Homo sapiens: one gene and its partner. The gene in region 2 interacts genetically with the main gene of each other region. Each region holds a gene or a part of one and is shown on either strand. Other genes may lie near its edges.

Evidence for each region.
Region 1: changes in FHIT (region 2) and CHEK1 are lethal when combined (synthetic lethality), as found in Homo sapiens cells (one large-scale study listed by BioGRID).

The regions. Positions count from the first base shown.
Region 1 is NC_000011.10:125,649,163-125,652,662, forward strand, and holds part of CHEK1 (serine/threonine-protein kinase Chk1), read left to right. Parts: intron 1-3,500. UniProt on the Homo sapiens protein: Serine/threonine-protein kinase which is required for checkpoint-mediated cell cycle arrest and activation of DNA repair in response to the presence of DNA damage or unreplicated DNA.
Region 2 is NC_000003.12:60,009,175-60,013,135, forward strand, and holds part of FHIT (bis(5'-adenosyl)-triphosphatase), read right to left. Parts: intron 2,227-3,961; coding exon 2,197-2,226; intron 1-2,196. UniProt on the Homo sapiens protein: Possesses dinucleoside triphosphate hydrolase activity. Cleaves P(1)-P(3)-bis(5'-adenosyl) triphosphate (Ap3A) to yield AMP and ADP. Can also hydrolyze P(1)-P(4)-bis(5'-adenosyl) tetraphosphate (Ap4A), but has extremely low activity with ATP.

The DNA of each region.
Region 1 (3,500 bases), on a different chromosome or scaffold from region 2:
TCACCAGCTATCTTGTGTATTTTCCTTTTTTTAGATGGAGTCTCACTATGTTGCCTAGGCTAGACTGTAGTGGCTACTTAAAGGCACGATCATAGTGCAATGCAGCCTCAAATTCCTGGGCTCAAGTGACCCTCCTGCCTTGGCCTCCCAAGTAGGTGGGACTGCAGGCATGTACCACCATACCCAGCTACCAGCTCTCTTTTGGTTATTGTTTCCATGGTCTATTTTTTTTTTCCTTTTCCTTTTAACCTATTTGTGTCTTTGAATCTAAAGTGCCTTAGCCAGGTGTCATGGCTGACACCTGTAATTCCAGCACTTTAGGAGGCTGAGGTGGGTAGATCACTTGAGGCCAGGAGTTTGAGACCAGCCTGGCCAACATGGTGAAACCCCATCTCTACTAAAAATATTTTAAAAATTAGTTGGGCGTTGTGGTGTGCACCTGTAATGCCAGCTATTGGGGAGGCTTTAGGTGGGAGGATAGTCTGAGCCATTGGAGATCAAGGCTGCAGTGAGTCGTGATCTGATTGCATGACTGCTCTCCAGCCTGGGTGACAGAGCAAGACTGTCTCAAAAAAAAAAAAAAATCGCTTCTTAGCCTTTTGGCTAAGATCAAGTGTAGTATCTATTCCTATCAGTTTAAGTGCCTTAATTTCTCTTCCACTTTTTGGACAGGTAGTTTTGCTGGATATAGAATTCTTATTAGCTTTTGTCTTTCAGCACTTTGATTATGCCACTACTGCCTTCTAGCCTTTGTGGTTTCTGATGAGAAATCAGCTGTTAATCTTACTGAGGATCTCTTTTATGTGAGACGTTGCTGCTCTCTTGCTGCTTTTATGTTTCTCTGTTGACCACAGTTTGACTATGGTGTATCTTGGTGTGGATTTCTTTTTTCATTCTGTTCGGAGTTCGTTGAGCTTCTTGGATATGTAAATTAATGTTTTTAATCACACTTGGGAAGTTTTTGGCCACAATTTCTTCAGATTTTTTTTTTTATATCTAACTCTCCTCTCCCTCTTGGACTCATTATGTTTATTGTTGGTATACTTGATGTGCCACAGTTCTTAGACTCTGTTCATTTTTCTTTATTCTTCTTTCTTTATGTTTCTCAGGGACAGTTTTGGTTGCTGTTTTTCCTTTATAAGGGCCATACTTTGTTTCCTTACATGCTTTGTAATTTTTTGTTGAAAACTGGACATATTGTGGCAATATGTGGCAACTCTAGAAAGTCAGATTTTCCCCTCTTGCCAGTGTTTGTTACCGCTTGATGTAGTTGTTTGTTTTTTTTAGTGGTGTTTGTTTTTTTTTTTTTTTGAGACGGAGCTTTGCTCTTGTTGCCCAGGCTGGAGTGCAGTGGCGTGATCTTGGCTCACTGCAGCCTCCACCTCCTGGCTTCAAGTGAGTCTCCTGCCTCAGCCTTCCAAGTATCTGGGACTACAGGCACCTGCCACTGTGCCTGGCTTTTTGTATTTTTATTAGAGATGGGGTTTCATCATGTTGGCCAGGCTGGTCTCGAACTCCTGACCTCAGGTGGCTGGGATTACAGGTGTGAGGCACCATGCCCGGCCCTAGTGATTTTTCTTATATAATTTTTTAAAGTTGGTATTGTTTGTCATGCATGGCTGTACAATTTCTGTCCCATTAGTTTTAGTGGTCAGCTAATGATTGGACAGAGATTTCCTTAAATTCTGTATACCAAAAACAAAAAATCTGCAGAGTGTTCTGTATTTGTGTTGGGGCACACCTGCAATACTCAACCAAGAAGTTTACAACGTTGCTTCAGCCTTCGCTATCTGCTTGTGCAAAATGCAAAGTTAGGGCACATGTAGAGCTTAGGGGCCTTCTCAGCTCTTTCCTAAGCATATGTACTGCCCTGGTCATGGGTGTGTCTTTTTAGATTCCCAGGTATATGTTGGACCTTTTCAGAGTCCTATTCCCCAGAAACATCTCACTCCCTAACCTCTTCTTCCAAACTTCTTGGGTAGTCTGTTTGCACCAGTTGCTTTCATTGCTTCAGGCAACAGAGACTAAAGCATTTTCCTGTAAGTGTTTTCAGCAAACGCTACTCAGGAGTAGCTTTAGCACAAGGTGAGTTAGAGTTACAAAGGTGAAATAAAGACAAGCCTCTTTTTTTTTTTTTTTTTTTGAGATGGAGTCTCGCACTGTTGCCCAGTCTGGAGTGCAATGGTGTGATCTCAGCCCACTGCAACCTCTGCATCCCGGGTTCAAGCGATTCTCCTGCCTCAGCCTCCCAAGTAGCTGGGATTACAGGCGCCTGCCACCACACCCTACTAATTTTTGTATTTTTAGTACAGACAGGGTTTCACCATGTTGGTCAGGCTGGTCTTGAACTCCTGACCTCAGGTGATCCACCCACCTCGGCCTCCCCAAGTGTTGGGATTACAGGCATGAGCCACTGTGCCTGGCCAGGACAAGCCTTTTGATCAGGTCATTTTAGAGGGTCAGATCGGCTTAAGATAGTTTGTAAATGAGGTTTATTCTGCTCCCACCTGGACCTATGCCTTAAATATGAACTGTTATTTTCAAGGCTGCTACTGAGTGAGGAGCAGGGGATAAACAGGGTAAGTTAAAATGCCAGAAAGCTCACTGTTCTTACTGCGTTTCACTTGTTTTGAATAAGTTGCTGCAAGCTTTTAGCTAGTTTACAATGTTCTGAAAAAGTTGATTCTGACAGGCTTTGGCAGGTTTTTAAAATTGCTTTTGTGGAGTAATGGACTTCTGGAGTTCTTTTCTCTGCCATTTTCACTGACATCACTCCTTGATTCACTCTCTCTCAGTTCTTGAAGTATTTTCTTTGTCTTTGAAGTTTAAGAGCTTAATTCAGATGTGTTGAGTTGAATATCTTGTATTAATTTTCCCAGAACATAGTGGGTTATTTCAGTGCTGCACAGTCGTGGTATGGTTGTGTGTTTTCATAGTTTCTTGAAGTAAGAATTATTACAAAAACTTTTGTAATTTGGGCTGTGTTTTTTGGGCAAATCTGCTGATCTCGCTCGGGCTTAACTCATCCAGCTGTAGTCATTTGATGTCTTTACTGTGGCTGGTGGTCTAAAACATCCTTACTCCCATATTTGGAGTCTTGGCACTGTCTGTTAGCTGAGTCTTTTCTTTCTGCATCATTCAGCTAGGCTGAGCGTCTTTCCATGCCATAGGAACGTTCTAAAAGACTGAAAGTGGAAGTTGAAGGCCTCTCAAGACCTTTGCCATCTTCTAATTGCCGCTCTAGCTTTTCAGCCACAAGTCAGGCCTTTTTCTTTCTCACATTTTAATAATCTTGTTTTTCCTCCCATTATGTTTTCATCTTTGATTGTTTCTTCTTTCAGTGGTATTTTGGTAAAAGACAGTAAGTTTTGTTGCTATGAGTTCATATACACTCAATCCCTAGGAGCTGCACCCCTGTTGATAGATTGGGTTGGGGACACACATACCCACTGGGAGAAGAGAGACTCTGGAATGAGTGAGATTATCAGCATACTTAATAT
Region 2 (3,961 bases):
GTGTGTGTGTGTGTGTGTGTGTGTGTGTGTGTGTGTGTGTGTGTGTGTGTGTGTGTATGGTGGTTTTCTTATAACCACCATATTCTACAAACGAGTCAAGATATCCCCATTATTTCATATCAGGAAACTTCTGTGATCAGGTTGGAAACAACTGAAAGATGTGCAAAACAGCATAACCTGCTGATTTAAAAAACAGAATCGTTTTAAAAAGTTCAACTTAAGCTAAATAATCAGGGTGATGATAACAATAACCACATTCAACAATTCATATATAAGTACTATATGTTAAGAATTAGTCCATCATCATCACCATCAAAGGTAACAAAAACATTACACATTTTGGCCAGATAATTGGGACATCAAAAAGTAATTACTATTGGAGTTACACAATCTGTAGCCATAGTTATCAGCCCAGCTAGGCTCACTGCTTATTTGTTTTGTGTGTGTGTGTTTATTATTTTTAGTCAAGAGATAATTCAAATATGATAAAATTCACCATTTTAAAACGTACAATTCAGTGGCTTTATTATATTCACAATGTTGCACAACCATCACCACTAAGTCCACAACGTTTTCATTACCCTAAAAGAACCTGTATCCATTAGGAATCATTCCCCATTCCTTCCTTGTCCCAGTCCCTGGCAACCACTAATCTACTTTCTATCTCTATTCAGAGCCTGTTGCATAGCAAATATTTTCTATCCCGCTTTAGAATGGCTAAATGAAATTTTGAGATCATATAACCTATCTATTCATATAAGTTTTAGCTATGCTTACTATGCACCTATTATCATTCTGTGCATCCCACTTAATACAGTTTGTGCATTCCCCCATGTCACTAGCTATGCCTCTACAGTATCGCTTTCAATGGCTGAAGGAATTCCATCAAATAGATATTGCATAGTGCATCTAACTAATCCGGTATAGTTGGAATTTACATTTGAATACTGAGTTTTAAAAAATCTTGGAACCAAGTTTAAACATTTGTGTTTTGCATTTCAAGAAGTGATTTCAAAAAGAAGCCACAGGTATTAAATCCTTTCTTTGCATCCGTATATTTAGAGCCTCACATGGAGGTGAGACAGTGGGACAGAGGAAAGCTGAAAGCCTCTGTGTCTATCACCATACCCTGTGTGTAGAGCAATTAGGAGGCTAGCCCTTTTTTATGATAAGGAATTTGGTAGCCCATATGGTGGCAGTCCCTACATAAACTTTCACTGCTTAGAAGTATTTCCCAGAGATTGTATTTTAAAAGTCCCAGAATAGCTGTGTTAAAGACAAAAGTAAAGTAAGATCAAAAGGGAACTTACGTTTATTTGGCATTGTTTGTGTGGGCAGCACCTTATCCACTCACAGCTAGTCTTCGAAGCATTAAACTTTATTTCAACAAAGTGTAACATTAACATCCCAGCCTGACTTGCTTCTGACTTCTAGCACCAAAAATAGAGCCTTTTCTATGACTTAGGTGCAGAATCTACCCGTATAGGAATTAGCATTTGTATGAAAAGAGCTGAAACCCAGCTTCTGAATCAGCCAGGATTTTATTATTTTATTTTTACTACAGAAGCAGAGACTATCCTAATAAATCCTCCTTTCTTCTCCTAGCACACTTAAAAACCCATCTTTGAGCTCCACTGACTCCATTAGGTTTGAACTTTGGTATTAAGTACACAGGGAGGAAAAGAGTAGGTGTGGGGGTGACGAGAAGGAGAACAGAGAGAAGCACAGGAGAACAGAAAGGAAGGGAGGCAGCTTGATGCTACTGCTGCGGTTATTGCTTCACTCAAAAACAATGAAGCAAAAGCAGACTATGTCAAGAAGCAAAGGTGTGTCAAAGACACCCCAGGCTTAACATGGGGCTGCACAAACCCACAGGAAGCTCACATGCTATTTCCTAGACACTCTCTCACATGAACCACTTTGACTTATGTTTCCGGACTCCTTGATTTAGTTTCTGTTTTAGCGTTTGCACAATAATAATTTTACTACTAAAAGTAAATGTCTTGTAAACCAATGGGAAACATATTGTTTGGCAGAGTTTATAATGTCAGGATTTACGGCTCTAACACTGAGGGTCTCTCTGACCTCGAAGATAACATAATGAAACAGCAATGTGCTGCATATGACTCGTTGTGATTTTTTATTAGTTCTCATAATCGCCTCTTATTAATTTGTATGCACATAATAAGCACTCACCTTCACAGTCTGTCCGGCTTCGGGGCCATCCTAGAAGTAGGAAAAAACCAACAGAGGTGAGAATAGATAGATGGTATCTCCTGCTTATTCAGAAATATCACCCATTAATAATTTAGATGCAATTTCATTGTGTGTTAATTTATAGTATTCTCATGGGGACCATTGGCTTCAAATGTGCGGGATTAGACAGTTCTCCATTTCCGCCTGAGAGTAAGTGCGAAGTTATGTATAAAAATGATATAAATTATCCAGCAAGCCAACTCCTTGCTACTTTTCATGCTCTTTGCTCTAGGCTATGGTTTTAATTGCATTAAAGGAAGGCTGAAAATGTTTGGGGAGGTGAAGTATCACACCTTCTGGTTATGTTTAGAGGTGGTTTAATTAATGTCTGATTACTTTAAGCTTCTACTCAGGAAATCTGCTATAAACATAAGCCATTAAGGAAGAATATGGGGTATTTCATATGGGAAGAGTCCTCTGGCTATTCTGACCTTGTGGGAGACAAATGGTAGTGTTCATTGTAGCTGGACCCTTTTCCCAAACTGGTTCCCTTTCTCTGTTTCTGAAGCTTAGTTGGAAATGGGCAAACTCACCAAGTCACCAGCCATAATATAAAGCAAAAGCAGATACTCAGCTGGTTGAGATGGCCAAACAAAGCAATGGCTCCACAATCAGAAATTCCAAAATAGAATTTCACCTCTGCAACTTTAGCCAGGTTTGTCTACCTCTATGAGCCTGACTAACGGGGTGAGAACTCCCGCCGTAAGGATTAAGCATAACTGTGTATATCAGGGATTTTCAAACTTAGAGTCACAATCCATTAGTGGGTCATGAAGTCAACTTAATGGGTTGCAATCAGCATTACAAACAATGTAAATCAGGTGTTTTTTTTGTTGTTTTTTTTTTTTTTTTTTTTGAGAAAGGGTCTTACTCAGTTGTCCAGGCCAGAGTATGGTGGCATGATGGCGGCTCACTGCACCCTTGACCTCCTGGACTCAAGTGATTCTCCTGCCTCAGCCTCCTGAGTAACTGGGACTACAGGCATGCACCATCATGCCTGGCTAATTTTTGTATTTTTCTTAGGGACAGGGTTTTGCCATGTTGCCCAAGCTGATCTCAAACTCCTGAGCTCAAGAGAGCTGCCGGTCTTAGCCTCCCAAAGTGCTGGGATTACAGGTGTGAGCCACCACACCCAGCCAGAAATCAGATCTTAATAGAATAAAAACTATTAGACTGCACAGAATGAGTAAACATTGTTTTGTGAAACTCTGGTTTCCTTTATCAATATAGGCATATGCATATATTTCATATATGTGTGTCAGGGGAGACAGGCATGATTTTGAAATAAATATGTATCTTACTGTAGGTTACAGTAAAAAATAGTTTGACCACATTGCATATACGAAAGTACTCTAGGTGCTAACACAAGTCAGCTCTTACATTTATGGAATTAACTTTCTAGTGAAAAATGTTCCATAACCAGCAATGGCCATTTCCTATAAATGTGATTTTTATTCTTGTATCTCACTAAACATTAACAGAGGTTTTCATTCACTGCCTTCATTTAGTCTCTCCAGAAACACGGTTTGCAACATAAGCTTGATAAACCCACTCTGAACTGAACTACCTGCCTGAAGGGGACTCAAATGGTTTGACATACAACACATACACACAAAGCATTTGGGGGAAGTTTAGCTACTCTTAACACAGACATGGCAGCAAAAAAAGAAAGAAAAAAATCTGTTTGAGAAGAAGATGAGCACTT